4 linked regions of the Homo sapiens genome follow. The protein of the gene in region 2 purifies or fractionates together with the protein of the main gene of each other region. This does not show direct contact. Each region holds a gene or a part of one and is shown on either strand. Other genes may lie near its edges.

Evidence for each region. The genes of interacting proteins can lie anywhere in the genome.
Region 1: the proteins of PHF20L1 (region 2) and MTA1 purify together in Homo sapiens (affinity purification with mass spectrometry; 2 studies listed by BioGRID and IntAct, with this or other methods). This does not show direct contact.
Region 3: the proteins of PHF20L1 (region 2) and CHD4 purify together in Homo sapiens (affinity purification with mass spectrometry; 2 studies listed by BioGRID and IntAct, with this or other methods). This does not show direct contact.
Region 4: the proteins of PHF20L1 (region 2) and KANSL1 purify together in Homo sapiens (affinity purification with mass spectrometry; 3 studies listed by BioGRID and IntAct, with this or other methods). This does not show direct contact.

The regions. Positions count from the first base shown.
Region 1 is NC_000014.9:105,457,827-105,461,326, reverse strand, and holds part of MTA1 (metastasis-associated protein MTA1), read right to left. Parts: intron 3,058-3,500; coding exon 2,955-3,057; intron 970-2,954; coding exon 870-969; intron 563-869; coding exon 374-562; intron 1-373. UniProt on the Homo sapiens protein: Transcriptional coregulator which can act as both a transcriptional corepressor and coactivator. Acts as a component of the histone deacetylase NuRD complex which participates in the remodeling of chromatin.
Region 2 is NC_000008.11:132,812,268-132,817,695, reverse strand, and holds part of PHF20L1 (PHD finger protein 20-like protein 1), read right to left. Parts: exon of another isoform or gene 4,506-5,428; intron 3,060-4,505; coding exon 2,807-3,059; intron 809-2,806; coding exon 620-808; intron 358-619; coding exon 151-357; intron 1-150.
Region 3 is NC_000012.12:6,576,380-6,579,879, forward strand, and holds part of CHD4 (chromodomain-helicase-DNA-binding protein 4), read right to left. Parts: intron 2,539-3,500; coding exon 2,467-2,538; intron 2,343-2,466; exon of another isoform or gene 2,174-2,342; intron 2,168-2,173; coding exon 2,030-2,167; intron 1,759-2,029; coding exon 1,650-1,758; intron 1,539-1,649; coding exon 1,406-1,538; intron 1-1,405. UniProt on the Homo sapiens protein: ATP-dependent chromatin-remodeling factor that binds and distorts nucleosomal DNA. Acts as a component of the histone deacetylase NuRD complex which participates in the remodeling of chromatin.
Region 4 is NC_000017.11:46,036,430-46,039,929, reverse strand, and holds part of KANSL1 (KAT8 regulatory NSL complex subunit 1), read left to right. Parts: intron 1-45; coding exon 46-228; intron 229-714; coding exon 715-903; intron 904-1,243; coding exon 1,244-1,392; intron 1,393-3,500. UniProt on the Homo sapiens protein: Non-catalytic component of the NSL histone acetyltransferase complex, a multiprotein complex that mediates histone H4 acetylation at 'Lys-5'- and 'Lys-8' (H4K5ac and H4K8ac) at transcription start sites and promotes transcription initiation.

The DNA.
Region 1 (3,500 bases), on a different chromosome or scaffold from region 2:
AGCTTAGTCAAAAACAAAGCAAAACCAAGCCTGGGGCTGGAGGGGGCAGCAAGGAAGGGAAAGTCTCCGTGAGGATACCCTGGCCTCCGTCACCTGGGCCAACCCTTATCCTCATCACGCAATGGTGGCAGGAGCATGGCTCTCTATGCCCAGGCCCCACCAGCGCCCCCATGCCTGTCTGCTGAACCAGTGTGACAGGAAGGACTATGGCGGCCGAGCGCAGCTGAGACAGAACTCATGCAGCTCCGCACAGGGAATCAGGGTGCAGGACAGGCTCCCTCAGGGCAGAGTGGGATGTGGAGCCCACACCCCCGCAGCCTACCTGGAGATGGGCATGGCCAGCCACTCCCCCATCGCCACCCACGGTACTCACAAAATCTTGCTGAATGTCCGTGAAATCCTTCCCATATTTTTCCAGGGCTTCCTCGAAAAGGTTGGCCTCTGATGCAGACCACTCCTCCATCTCGTCCCTGCAGAGCACGGGCCCGCCCTGCGGCACCAGCGCCGAGATGGCCTTGGAGATGTCGTAGATGTTCTTGTGGAGAGTATCCATGGCGTGGAACTGCGGCAGGAGACAGCAGGGTCACCCGGGCCAAGGTGGCTTTTCCTGCACCTGTGGCACGGTACCCCCTCCCTCAGTACCTCAAGGATCCCCTACTGCAGGCCCAGCAGCACAACCCTCCCTGCACCCTCAGCACAGTCTGGCCGAGTTTGGGGTGGATAGGAAAGGCCAGTCCAGGTGGGACAGCACCTCTGCAGGGGTCCTGAATACCTGGGGCAGGTGCTGGGCCCTGGTAGGAAGAAGGGCGCAGCCACTCTGGGCCATGGGCCACCCCAGGTCTCACCTGTCCCGCCCTGGGCCCACTTACCAGGGTGATGTCTCGGGAGGCAGCTGCGGCGCTCATGTGCAGGCTGGGCTGTCGGACGGAGCTGCTGCAGTCCAGGGCCCGTGCGAAGGTGCCCACAGAGCTGGGGAAAGGAGATGCGCTGACCACAGTGTCGGCCAAGCAGGGACTCCCCACAGGCACACCGCTCCCCAGGCGCCAGGGACCAGCGGCCACGGGCAGCACGGACTCCCCCAAGGCACACCACTCCCCAGGTGCCAGGGACCAGGGGCCATGGGCAGCACGGACTTCCCCCAGGCACACCACTCCCCAGGTGCCAGGGACCAGGGGCCATGGGCAGCACGGACTTCCCCCAGGCACACAGCTCCCCAGGTGCCAGGGACCAGGGGCCATGGGCAGCACGGACTTCCCCCACGCACACCGCTCCCCAGGTGCCAGGGACCAGGGGCCATGGGCAGCACGGACTTCCCCCAGGCACACAGCTCCCCAGGTGCCAGGGACCAGGGGCCATGGGCAGCACGGACTTCCCCCAGGCACACAGCTCCCCAGGCGCCAGGGACCAGGGGCCACGGGCAGCACGGACTCCCCCCAGGCACACAGCTCCCCAGGCGCCAGGGACCAGGGGCCATGGGCAGCACGGACTCCCCCCAGGCACACAGCTCCCCAGGGACCAGGGACCAGGGGCCACGGGCAGCACGGACTCCCCCCAGGCACACAGCTCCCCAGGGACCAGGGACCAGGGGCCATGGGCAGCACGGACTGCCCCCAGGCACACAGCTCCCCAGGCGCCAGGGACCAGGGGCCATGGGCAGCACGGACTCCCCCCAGGCACACAGCTCCCCAGGGACCAGGGACCAGGGGCCACGGGCAGCGCGGACTCCCCCCAGGCACACAGCTCCCCAGGTGCCAGGGACCAGGGGCCATGGGCAGCACGGACTGCCCCCAGGCACACAGCTCCCCAGGCGCCAGGGACCAGGGGCCACGGGCAGCACGGACTCCCCCCAGGCACACAGCTCCCCAGGGACCAGGGACCAGGGGCCATGGGCAGCACGGACTCCCCCCAGGCACACAGCTCCCCAGGCGCCAGGGACCAGGGGCCATGGGCAGCACGGACTCCCCCCAGGCACACAGCTCCCCAGGGACCAGGGACCAGGGGCCACGGGCAGCACGGACTCCCCCCAGGCACACAGCTCCCCAGGGACCAGGGACCAGGGGCCATGGGCAGCACGGACTGCCCCCAGGCACACAGCTCCCCAGGCGCCAGGGACCAGGGGCCATGGGCAGCACGGACTCCCCCCAGGCACACAGCTCCCTAGGGACCAGGGACCAGGGGCCACGGGCAGCGCGGACTCCCCCCAGGCACACAGCTCCCCAGGTGCCAGGGACCAGGGGCCATGGGCAGCACGGACTCCCCCCAGGCACACAGCTCCCCAGGGACCAGGGACCAGGGGCCACGGGCAGCGCGGACTCCCCCCAGGCACACAGCTCCCCAGGCGCCAGGGACCAGGGACAGACTGCATGAGCATCGCAGGGAGCAGCCCGCAGGTGGCGAGGACTCCTCGTGTCCTGGGCCCCAGGCTGCGGAGTAGGGCCCGGCACCCACCCCAGAACCCGTGTGCGTCTAACTGAGGGCATCCCGATAGATTGGCAGCCGCCTTGGGGCTTCTTTTGGGGTTTTCTCCACCTCCCAGGCTGCTGGCAGGGAAGGTGCATGGTCCTCTCCTGGGCCTCGGCCTTCGCCCTGCCCCAGGGGTCTGCCCGGGCTGCAGCTGCTCTGCTCCATGACCAGGCCCAGCCCACTTGCTCCCAGTGGCCCAGGAGTGGGAAAGCACCTCTGGCCCATCCTGGGAAAGCCCCATTAGGGACACATGGGCAGGCACACAGGCCTGCCCCCCAGAAGGGCCGCCCTTCTATTTAATGAAGGGCCTGGACCCAGCACTCCCGAGCCTCTCTGGGAACTGCTACCGGGGGTCTCAGGGCTGCAGCGCATGGGCTTCTTGTTGGGATATGGGATCCAAGACTGTCACGTCCCCAACACCCACCACAGGGAAGGGAGAACAGAAGCTCCAGGCACCACCCCTGCTGGCCTTGCCCAGGAGCAGGACTCACCGGGCCACCACCAGGAACTGGTCGATCTGCTTGTCTGTGAGTGGGTTGTGCGCCTCCCACACCTGGGTCTCCAACCTGGACTGGTCTCGGCCATCCTCCTCGCCTACAGGGAGGAAGTGTGGCCTTTCTGAGACGGGGTCCCACGGCGCGCCGGGCCGCGCCTCTCCTCCCCGGGTGCGGGGAGCTGCTGGGACGGGGAGGGGGAAGGGCTGCAGGGCCCCATAGGTGAGGCCAGGGTGCAAGGCTGGACGGAGGCTGTTGCACACACAGGCACACAGTGGCCTCTCAACCCGGGGCTGGGGTGCACACGCAAGGGGCCTCCCAGCCCACCCAGAATGCAGGGCTCCAAGAACTGTGGCCACAAGAGATGGGAAGGTTGGTTTGTAAATTTAAATCAAGCCTTTTTATTTATTTATTTATATTATTATTATTATTATTATTATTTTTTGAGACGGAGTCTCACTCTGTCGCCCAGGCTGGAATACAGTGGTACGATCTTGGCTCACTACAACCTCCGCCTCCCAGGTTCAAGCGATTCTCCTGCCT
Region 2 (5,428 bases):
ATGAAACTCTCCTATAAATGTTAAAGTATTTATGAAAAGGAATTATATAGGAATCAAAATAATGTAGTTAAACCTCAAAATGTTTATACCTAATAACTGCAAGCCTAGCTACTTATCTACTTATAGGAGCCTTTATTTTTTTTCTTTTACCTGCTGCTGCTGGAGCTCCTCTTCCATCAGCTATTGCTTTGGAAGAAGGATTTGGAAGCATCTGTGTATCCTCTTTTTCTGCCCTGGGACATTCATTACGGTAAGAGGAATCTGAGGCTACCGGTGCTGTAACTTCTGAACCACGACTTAAGTCAAGAGGGAGACAGGGTCCCAGCTTCTCAAGTGGCAAATGTGCAACATCAGGCACTACACAAAATAAAGAGTGTAATGTAATATTAACACAGATAAAATGGCTCAGTTACTATCACTGTGAATTAAAGTGTTACATAATTTAAACAGTGCCTGGCACAAAGAAGGCACTCAATAAATATTTGTAGAATAAGTGAAGTGCTTATAACTCCAGAAGATATAAGAGCAGAAATATCTTAATATTTTAATAATCTTTATCTCTTAGTTTTTTCTTTATCTTCTTTTATGTTTGGTTCTATAGGAAATCAATATACATTACCCTCTGGTACTGAAGATTCTTGCTGATTTTGAGAACTGATGGAGAATACTTTCCCATCAGTGGCTGGAGAGGGAGAAGAAACCTTTTCTACAGAATCATCAGGCATGGGTAAGGTGGCTAAACGCTGAGATCTTCTTCTCCGCTCACTATGCTTGAAAGGTCTAGGGGGATTCACAGGCTGTGGAGGACCTAGAAAAAGATCTTCAATGTTCACGAAGCAGATACATACCAGGAGCATCTTACAATATTTAAGGAGATAAATGGGAAAAAATGATTTATATTCTTCCCTCTGATGTTGTTATAAGATATCCACAAGGAATGGCATGTTCCAAAGGTAATCAAAGGCAAAAATTGTGCCCTCATTCAAAATGAGTCAATCAAAAATTGTAAAATCTACACTCTACTAGAACTAAAAGAAAATAAAATGGAACATTAATTTCAAGTAGCTCCCCCAAGTGACAGACTACAGTTAATTTCTCTAATTGCAGATCGTTGTGTAAATTGCCATTTTTCCTTCGGGAAAATAGTCTCTTTACAGCAAAAGATAAGGAAAAATATATATATATGTATTCCTTTTGCTACATTGCAAATCTAGAAACTCTAAGGGAAAAAAAGGCAGGGACAAAGATGATACAACATTATAGAGTTAGTGATTTACTTTACACTAATGTAAATAATTTTATCCCATCATCATCCCCCCCAAATGGAGTTTTATAAACATGTCTGGGCCTGATTCATTAAAAAAAAAAAATGAACAAAAACAACTTTGTATACTTATTGTGAGCAAATAATGAGGATATTTAAGATTATGACATTGTGTACTTGTGTTTTTTAACAACTTGGTAAGTAATTTAGGCATCTTCTAGCAATATAATATAAATATTTGGAAATGTCTCTCACACTTTTAGATATCTTCTTTCTACATGGCATACAAACACATTTGACTAGAATAGGCAAGATTATATATGCCAATATATTCATGTTAATTTAGAAAGAGGAAATAAGAACAGTCTAAAGACATTGATGTTTGGGTATTTAAGAGTAATTTTACAATCAAAACGAAAAAGACATGCTGATAACTTAAAAATATGAAAGAATAAAATTTAATTGCTATAATATTGTGGTTATAATACCAAGATATAATTTCCAAAATAAAATGTTTATTAATGTCATATGACATTCCAGTGACTACTACTGACACTATTTCATGATAAATGCCATAATGAAATGAAGCTTATTAGGAAAACAATTGAATTATGTTCCCATTCTTTCCACCTATTAAAAAGAAAAAGCAAAACCTGATCAAAATGAAAAAATGATTCAGTAGAAAATATGGCAACTGAAGGAAAATAGGTTAATAAGTTTGATAAAAGTCTTCTGAATGCCAACATCTTTGATTATTCTGGAAGACACAATATGGAATAAGGAAACATGTCATATTCACTCAACTGATCATGTATTTCATTTTTTGCATAAAGAGCAAAAAAAACCATCATTTACCAACTGACTTTTCAAATAACTGTTATTCATGTCTCCAACTTAGGATACTAAACTAATATGAGAAACTCAGGGTCAACACAAATCTTGTATTATTTATATATACAGATATATAGGGAGATAGATAGATATACCCATGTGAAAGGTGTTTTCGAAAAAGACTGCGTTAACTCTTGAAAAATTAGAAGTACTGAAACAGTAAAATCTTTAAAAATACAATCATGGGGGCATTTTTTTTTCATTAAAAAGATTAAACTGAAGTCTAGACTATAAATATTATAATAAGAATGAATAAAATGTATTGCAGAGGAAAGTTATAGACAAGTGGGGACAAAAAATCTACAGGAATAGTCTTAAGTAAAAATAGCTATCCTGGGTCTTTTTATAACTTTTTTTTTTTGTAATGAATCAGGCCTCTCAGTATGCTTGGATTATGAGTTGAGGAGAGTCAAACTACAGTGGAATCTGTGTTATTAAATGGAAAGGATTCTCAACCAGCAGTAGTCTCTAAGCAATAAATCAGTAAGAAATGTCTATGGTTTTTGCCCCTGAAATAGTTTCAAGCCTTCCCTATCATATCCACTTGAGTTTTTAAAAAGCAACTTCATAAAAATACAATATAACTACAATCAAACTGTTTTTAATGTATCTTATAGGATAAATAACTATTTTTTAAAAATCTGTGCTCACTAGTTTTATTTATCACTGAAGAAGAAAGCTGAGATACAAGCGTCAAATCCTCGACTTGTATTAATTCTGGGGAAAGTGGTGATTTAGGGGGTTTTATACACCCAGAAGAATCTCCAGATTCATGTTTGCATTTCTTGCTGCGAGCCTTCCCTGAAGACAAAGTTGAGGATAACAGTGCAGGTTTCTGAGTGTTGGCAGAACTGCTAATGTCAGCTTCATTTTTTTTCTGACTTTGAGGTTTAGGTGAAATCGCCTGAATAAATAATAAAAAATTGATATTTTTATTTTGGCTTCTTCATTTTTGTTCTTGTATTCTATTTTGACTGTTAAGCAACTTTAGTATCCAGAAACATTGTTAAGCAACATATAACATTTCTATTACAAATGAAAAACCAAAAAGAACCCCACAAATTATTAACTAAAAGTTGAATAGGCTGTCTTTAAAGGGATGCTGTCAACTTTCAGTCTAAATTCATTTTTTAAAATATATTATTCATAATATTTTCGGAACATAAAATGTTATCTTACTGGACAAATATTTTCAGTATTAAATAGAAATATACCCCTTTAGGAACCATAATTGCCAATGACAATAATTCGAAAAATAAACAGCATTTTCATGTTTTAAAGGATTAGAGGAATACATTTAAGCTTTTGATTTTAGATGTTTTCTTATAAAATCTTTTCTTTTAAGTTGAATGTAAAGGTCTAAGTAGACAGATTCCCTTTAAAGAAAGATCTGAACAGGAAAAACAATGACCAAATTAACAAAACATTATCTTTAACTCATTTTAGTGCTGAAAGCTAGAGTTTCATAAGCACAATGCATCATGAAATCAGAGCCACCAGCAATATAGAGTTAAAAGACTAAAAAACAATACAAAACAAGCAACAACAACAAAAAAAAAACCAAAGAGATAAAGTGTAAGTTAAAAACATTGGATTTAAAAACAAAATACGTCGCATTCTTAGATGAGAGTTTTTACCTTCTTCCTGCCAACTGATACTTTTAAAAAAAAATTAGAACTTTGTCAGTTCTTTCATAAAAGATCATTTTTATTCATTTGGCTGTAAAATTTCCTACATATGTTAAAATATGTGTGAATGTGTCCATTTTTCAAAACAAGAGAAAATAACTACATTGGATGAATTTGCAATCTATGGTTCTGCAATACTTCTATCTCTTTCTGATATACTTATCTGAGAGCAAAATATATAATATGCATTTTTTGAAAATCTATTCTACCATAGGCCTTTATAAAGAATCAGACTGCTAGCACTATAAACAACATGCTTGTCCCCAAGAAATCTTTTTACTTCCATATCTTGTGGAGAATAACTATCAGGTCTGCTGTCTGCAGTTCTCTGGAATATGAACGATCATTTTCTGGGGACTAAATAAATAAATAATTCTGTTCCCACTGAGATACAAGTCAAATTTTGCTGGGGAAGAAAAGTGCATATTTGGTATTAAGTAGGGCACCTTCAATGCTCTATAGACAGCATGTTGGACATACCACATAAAAGGCCTGGTGTCAAGTGTCCCATTCATTCAGTTGTCATCATTTCTATTATTGAATTTACTCATTATAAATGTGTATAAGTGCAGATTAATTATTTGAAAAGGTACTTCATAAATGGATAGTATTCCTAACCTTATTATAAAAGGTGTTGCCAGAAAAGTAATTAGAGCCATTACTTGTAAATAAACAATTTTATTGTTCATCTTCACATATGTGAAAGACATCACTACAGCATCCATTACTCTCAAGTTACAAAGTTATAAAACAAGATTTTAAAACTTAATATCTTGATAAGGTGCTTAACTTCTAAACAAGGAAAAATTAACATTGTTTTTAAAACTTACTGAGTTATTATGCATCTAATGCAAGTTTTATCCAAAAGTAAATATAACATGACATATCCCTAATACAATTAAATAATCTATAATTAATAAGCTGAGAATTGGGGTTCAAGACCACAGTTTGAATTTTTAAAAAATATAAATAAGTCCATTAGCACAGTAAGTTTTGACTACAGGCCTGTTATCAATCTATGTCATGAGTGACATTACTTTAACTCATTAGGAAACAGAGGTTAGTAACAATCAATACCTCTCCTTTAGGTCTATTGCTGATACCAATTGAGATGTAATTAAGAGCTTTATAACTCGGCTTTTTAACTATGAAGCGAGGCTAACACATAGGATAAAAATAAGTGTTTGTTCACAAAACATTTTCACATTGAAATCAACCTGAATGACAAGTAGAAAATGAGGGAATGGCATGGTGTTCCTGAAAATCTAAAATAATTTACAAGGTTTTCATTAATGATTGTTGGTCTCTTTGTTACAAAACTGGCAAGGACTCTCAAAAGTTTTTAATTATGAAAATAGAAACAGCCGAGTTACACAATTTTCCTTTCTTTTTTAAATTCAATTTCAAAACGTGGTTTTCTGTACTTCTCTCTAAGACGGGTACTGCCCTCTACACTAACTTCCACATTTAATAAGTACTTTTCACAATCACATTCACCTCAGCAGGATTGTGCATAATCAAAGATTGACATTGTAATGAATTTTCCAGAAACATTTTATTACCCAAGTCCCTGATTTATCGCATT
Region 3 (3,500 bases), on a different chromosome or scaffold from region 2:
TCTCACTCCAATGCCTAGGCTGGAGTGCAATGGCACAATCTAGGCTCATTGCAGCCTCCTAAGTAGCTGGAACTACAGGTGCACGCCACCAGAACTGGCTAATTTTTGTATTTTTTGTAGACATGGGGTTTTGCCATGTTGCCCGAGCTAGTCTTGAACTCCTGGACTCAAGCAATCAGCTCTTTTAAATGCTGAGATTAGCCACTGTGTCTGCCTCTCTGAGAACTTTCTTTTCTTGTCTTTTTTGAGGTGAGTCTCGCTCTGTCGCCAGACTGGAGTGCAGTGGTGCGATCTCGGCTCACTGCAACCTCCGCCTCCCGGGTTCAAGCGATTCTGGAGAACTTTCTTATGCCAATCAGCAATCTCTCTCCTGATATGCAGAATGGCATTCATTTGATTACACATGTGCTCCTACTTGAAACTGAAAGCTCCTTGAAAACAGATACCATGCTTTGTCTTTTTATCCCTGGGCACATCATTGCTTAGTACATAATACCTGAAGGCTTATTAGTGTACCATTTCTTCCCCGATTATACTCAGCGTACGAGACAACAGACACGTCTTTTTTTTTTTTTGAGACAGAGTCTCACTCTGTTGCACAGGCTGGAGTGCCGTAGCACGATCTCAGCTCACTGAAATCTCTACCTCCCGACTTCAAGCGATTCTCCTGCATCAGCCTCCCAAAGTGCTGGGATTACAGGCGTGAGCCACCGCACCTGGCCCACACAGGCACTTTTTAGCCCAGAAAAAAGAACCAGGCCAGGCATGGTGGCTCATGCCTATAATCCCAGCAATCTGGGTGGCCAAGGCAGGTGGATCACTTCGAGGTCAGGAGTTTGAGACCAGCCTAGCCAACATGGTGAAACCCCATCTCTACTAAAAATCCAAAAAAAACAGCTGGGTGTGGTGGCAGGCGCCTGTAATCTCAGCTACTCAGGAGGCTGAGGCGGGAGAATCACTTAAACCCAGGACACAGAGGTTGTAGTGAGCAGAGGCTGCATCACTGCATTCCAGCCTGGGCGACAGAGATTCTGCCTCAAAAAAAAAAAAAAAAAAAAAACAACCAGCAGCCCACTGACTAATAGCTCTACATCTTCAGAGATGCAATTCAATCCCACCTCTATATCTTTCCTGAATACTCCAATCTGCAGTGTTCCCCAAACAAACCCCTCTGCACTAGTGTGTCACTGATTGGACACATAGTCACCTACAGCTCATGTACAGTTAGTTAACTTTCAATTCTGTGTGTCTTCAACCCTAATGTGTAAGTTACTTGGGAGCAAAGCCTTCCATAGAATGAAGAAAGTGAGAACAGTGCGCTGGATGGACAGACTCCCTCTGCTGCAGGACGTTACGCACTTTCAAGTTTGTCACTTAAGCAATATATTCCTCCCCAACCGCTCACCTTAAACCTTCGAGCTAGAAATTTATTCTTGATCTCTAAGAAATTGCCACGGTTCATTTCACCCTTGAAAGGCTCATTGAGGATGGCATAGCGTGGGTCATTCTGGATGTCTTGCCACCGGGCATAGCCATGGCTATTGGAAAAGTGCTCAGGAAAAACAAAACAAGGAAAGTAAGAACCTCAAACTAAAAGACCTTCAGAACCTTTCACCAAAAGCCTCAGTACAGATTCAGGCAAAGGATACTTTATAATGCCGGCTAGCAGCCAGTAGTCATGCCGTCGATGCCAGATCTCATAAGTCTTCTTGGTAACTGTGGCTGCCCGCTCTTCATTCTGCCAAAGGGAGTGCAACTCTGAGGAGGAATTTAGGGAAGGTTGGGGGTGGGGGGAAGCAAACATCTGTGAGAATTGAAAAAGCTACTTATTCTTGTCCCCCACCATCCCCTACCCCTGGATCCATTTCATATAATTTGCTTCTGGCTTTCTCCACAGAACCCACTATCAGTTTGGCATTCCCTCATCAAACAGAGGTAAAGAGGTAAAGTCCCTGTACCGTGGTTTCTGACAAGAACCCCAATTTCACATCAGATCCTTCTAACCCTGGTGGGCCCCTCATTTCCATACCAGTAAAACCACCATCTGCAATGTTAAACATGAAACGTTGTTTAATATTTTTCTTCTGTTTCTCATCATTCAGGTCCTTGGGGGTCTCTCCATTCTGAAGCATCACCTCTTTTTTCTCTTCTTCTTCTTTCTTCTCTTCTACAGAATATGGGGAAGAAAAATGTCAGCTCCAGCCAAAGCCCAGCACCATCGCCCTTACCCAGAACACTGTATGCTACAAGAATCCATCCACCTACACCCCTTCTCCACCTGGGTGTCTCTCAGACCCAGAAAATGGTGCCATTGGCCCACTGACAACTAAATGTGGGGACAGGTACAGTCTTTTATCTTGGGATAAAATGGCTAGATGAGTATGGACAGGGAGGCAGGGCAGATACAGTCCTTGCTTCTGGTTTTAGAGTTCTTCTGAACCACAATCAACTTCTCCAAACACCCACCTTTGTCTTCTACCACAATAGGGGTCAGATCTATTGCTGACTTTTCCTCCACCTTCTCTACATCAGCAGCACCTAGGGGAAGAAATGTTATTGAGACTATACCTAAAGGAAGAACATTCTCCTCTGTTGCACACTATTATCCAATTGGATAGACCCACATCTAAATGTCTGCAATTACAGTAATGTCAGCTGGGCATGGTGGCTCATGCCTGTAATCCCAGCATCTTGGGAGACAGCAGCAGGCAGATCACTTGAGGTCAGGAGTTCAAGACCAGCCTGGCCAACAAGGTGAACCCCAATCTCTATTAAAAATACAAAAATTAGCTGGGTGCGGTGGCTCATGCCTGTAATCCCAGCACTTGGGGAGGCCAAGGTGGGTGGATCACCTGAGGTGAGGAGTTAGAAACCAGCCTGGCCAACATGGTGAAACCCTGTCTCTACTAAAAGTACAAAAATTAGCCAGGCGTGGTGGCTCACACCTGTAATCCCAGCACTATGGGAGGCCGAGATGGGTGGATCTCTTGAGGTCAGGAGTTCATGACCAGCCTGGCCAACATGGTGAAACCCCATCTCTACTAAAATACAAAAATTAGCCGGGCGTGGTGGCGCATGCCTGTAATCCCAGCTACTCAGGAGGCTGAGGCAGGAGAATTGTTTGAACCCAGGAGGTGGAGGTTGCAGTGAGCCAAGATCACACCACTGCACTGCACATCAGCCTGGGCGACGGAGCAAGACTCCATCTCAAAAAAAAAAAAAACAACAACAAAAAAAACAATTAGCCAGGCATGGTGGCTACTCAGCAGACTGAGGCAGGAGAATCACTTGAACCCAGGAGGCGGAGGTTGCAGTGAGCCAAGATCGTGCCACTGCACTCCAGCCTGGGTGACAGAGTAAGACTCCGTCTCAAAAAAAAAAAAAAAAAAAATTTTGGCCAGGCGTGGTGGCTCACGCCTGTAATCCCCGCACTTTGGGAGGCCAAAGCGGGCGGATCACGAGGTCAGGAGGTGGAGACCATCCTAGCTAACACGGTGAAA
Region 4 (3,500 bases), on a different chromosome or scaffold from region 2:
GGCCAGGTGTTTGGACTAACCTGTAGCATTTTATGTTTCTTGCAGATGTTCCCACAAGCCTGCATTTCCAGAGCATGCTGAAATCTCAGTGGCAGAACAAGCCTTTTGACAAAATCAAACCTCCCAAAAAGTTATCGCTTAAGCACAGAGCACCCATGCCGGGCAGTCTGCCAGATTCAGCTCGTAAGGACAGGCACAAATTGGTCAGCTCCTTCCTAACAACAGCCAGTAAGTGTCAGGGAGCCGGGAAGTCCCCCAGAGTATCAGTGACTTTTCATTCCTTTTATATTCTCAAATTTGTAGTTTGCATGCATGTTGGGGTTGGGAGAGGCAGTTGACCGATAAAAAATTCAGCTCACAGTGACTGCTTCTGCTTGTCTTGGATGCTCTCAGATGGACTTCGGGAGCTATTCTAGACACCATGGATCTTGGAGCAAGACCCAAAATGCTCAGTGAACAGCCAGCAATGGCATGGCATTGAGTTCATCTACGGGCAGGTGTCTTCTGTATCCTGGTGACATGTTTCTCTGGTTCTGGGCTCCCTGTGCCTATCCTAGCCATTGTGCAAATTACTAGAAACTTCAGTCCTGAAGGACTGTCCTGCTGCCCTGGGTATACGGCGTTGGCCTAGAGAGAACTCGAGAGCTTGGAACTCGAATAAGAAAATATTTGAGAGGACATATTTCACAGCTCTTTTTCTGTTCCCCTCTTCAGAGCTGTCCCATCACCAAACCCGGCCTGACAGGACCCACAGGCAGCACTTAGACGATGTGGGGGCCGTGCCCATGGTGGAGCGAGTGACAGCGCCAAAAGCAGAGCGCTTGCTCAACCCACCACCACCCGTGCATGACCCAAACCACAGCAAAATGAGATTGCGAGACCATTCATCTGAGAGAAGTGAAGGTAGGGCCAGGCCCATGGCACCTCTACCTGCAACTGCACCTGCTCAGGGCTTTCTGGGGCAGCCTAGGCTTCTCTTAATTACCCCCAGCTTTGTCCTTCACTTTCTAGGAAAGCAGAGTAGAGGGACGCTACTGCTTCTAAATGGAGGTCACTTCTTAACTGCTACAGCAACCTCTGCCCTGCCCCTACTTCCCACAGCTAGTGTGCTTCACCTTTTTATCCTCTAGGCATAGAAAACATTTTTGCCTTTAGTATGTATTGCTGCCATTCCAAGCTTGTGTTAGAAGTAACGCTGGTTAAGATAGCCATGTATTTCTCTCTTTTCTGTTGACTTCTGCAGTGTTGAAGCATCACACAGACATGAGCAGTTCGAGCTACTTGGCAGCCACCCACCATCCTCCACACAGTCCCTTGGTGCGACAGCTCTCCACCTCCTCAGATTCCCCTGCACCCGCCAGCTCTAGCTCACAGGTTACAGCCAGCACATCGGTAAGTACCTGTGTGGGGTTGGCCGGACACCCCCTCTGCAGGTCACAGCTCACTCAAGTGGCTCCAGAGGACAGTGTGAGGGTGGGTTATAAAGCCCAGGGCATTTATAGGATCTCAGCTCATCATGACATATGTATGTATGTCTGTACCATTTTTAAGTCAAAGTCATGGTACTTGACCTTCTGTTGTTTTTCTTGAGTTGTTTTTCATAGCAGAGATGGATTTATGCTGAGCCATCCATAGAAAGCTTGATGCAGGGACAAACTCTTAAGGTGATCTGTGACTATTCAAGATCTGTTGGACTAAGTTTCACACAGGACTCAACAGTTCCGTGGCCCTAATCCTGTTGGCCCAAGAAGTGAACAAGAGAGGAGGGGTGGGTAGAGGGGAGATTCCCATGGGCGTTGGAAGCAGTGTTTGATTTCCTTGGTTTTACTCTCTGGGTGAGTGGAGGTGAAGTACTAAGAATAAACACTAGGCGTGAGGGTACCAGAAGAGAAGGGAAGGGAGAAGGCAGAGTCCATGCTTTTTAGGTATACAGAGCAGAATTACAGATCCAGCAGGCCCCCATGGCAGGACATTTGGCATGCACACACCAGATTTTACGATACCACACTCCATCTGGAAGCAGTTTGCACAGCTATTCCAGACACATTTCCTTTAATTTCATTCTAATATTTTAATTCCTCAAGTGTGCCCTCTTGGAACATACATACCTGTAGCTGCTATGGACCTACTCAAAGGGTCCTTTTTGTATAATAATTACAATGTAATGTAATGGTAAATGTAAAAGTCTGCAACTGTAATGTTTATTGAACACTTACTACATACCAGTGATCAGTGATTTACATGTGTTACATGTTATAATGCCTTTTGAGATGTAGGTTGGTACTGTGGATTTCATTTTATATGCATGAAAACTGTCAAGGCAACTTGTGAGGGTTATAATTATGATTCAAACTCAGGCAGCCTGACTGTAGAGCCAGCTCTTTTACCATTACACTACACAGGCTAAGCCTGGGTGAGGGTATTGCAGAGGCAACTTAGGAAGTTCCTTCAGAGCCTAGATCAGGAAACTTCCAAGCTCATAAAATGGACTCACTAGGCTCCTGTGATCAGGTAGGAATTCACATTGTTCTCTCTTTGCTGTTACAAATCAATCTTTTCCAAATGGTCTCTTTGCTCTTCGACTTTCTTTACCCCCGTAACCCACAAATTTTATCTAAATAGGTGTGTAGTGTCCCTCACATACTCAGTTATCCAGCAGCAAAGGGTTTCAGATAACCAAAGTATTTATAAAAAAGAGTCTAAACTAATTCTGATAGAAAATCTGAACTCAGAGATTCAGGACTTGGTGAGCACTTCAATATTTCTGTGTCTGGAGAATGTTAACTTAGGCCTGGATCACTTGAAATTTTTACCATTTATTGAGTAAAAATTTTGTGTATAGCACTATGCTAACCCCTGAGGCTCTCTCATTGCCAAGTTTTTTCAAAGACTCTGGATTTATGTAAAAGAAGATAGGCCAGGCACAGTGGCGCTCACCTATAATCCCAGCACTTGGGGAGGCGGCTGAGGCGGGTGGATCACTTGAGGTCAGGAGTTCGAGACCATCCTGGCCAATAAGGTGAAACCCTATCCCTACTAAAAATACAAAAATTAACTGGGCGTGGTGGCATGTGCCTATAGTTCCAGCTACTCTGAGGCAGGAGAATCACTTGAACTGGGAAGCGGAGGTTCCAGTGAGCGGAGATCAAGCCATTGCACTCAAGCCTGGGCGTCGCAGCAAGACTTCGTCTCAAAAAAAAAAAAAGAAAGAAGATAGGCCAGATAACAGCAGGCTCTCAGTATCTGCAGTATCTGCAGTGGGGATTGGTTCCAGGACCTCCCATAGATAGCAAAAGCTATTGTTGCTCATGTCCCTAATATAAAATGGCATAGTATTTGCATATAACCTATGTGTATGCTTTAAATCCCATATACTTTAAATCATCTCCAGATTACTGATAATACCTAATGCAATGTAAATGCTATAAAAATAGTATGCTGTATTGTTTAGAGAATAATGAAAAGAAAAATCTGTACCTTTTCAGTACAGACACAATTTT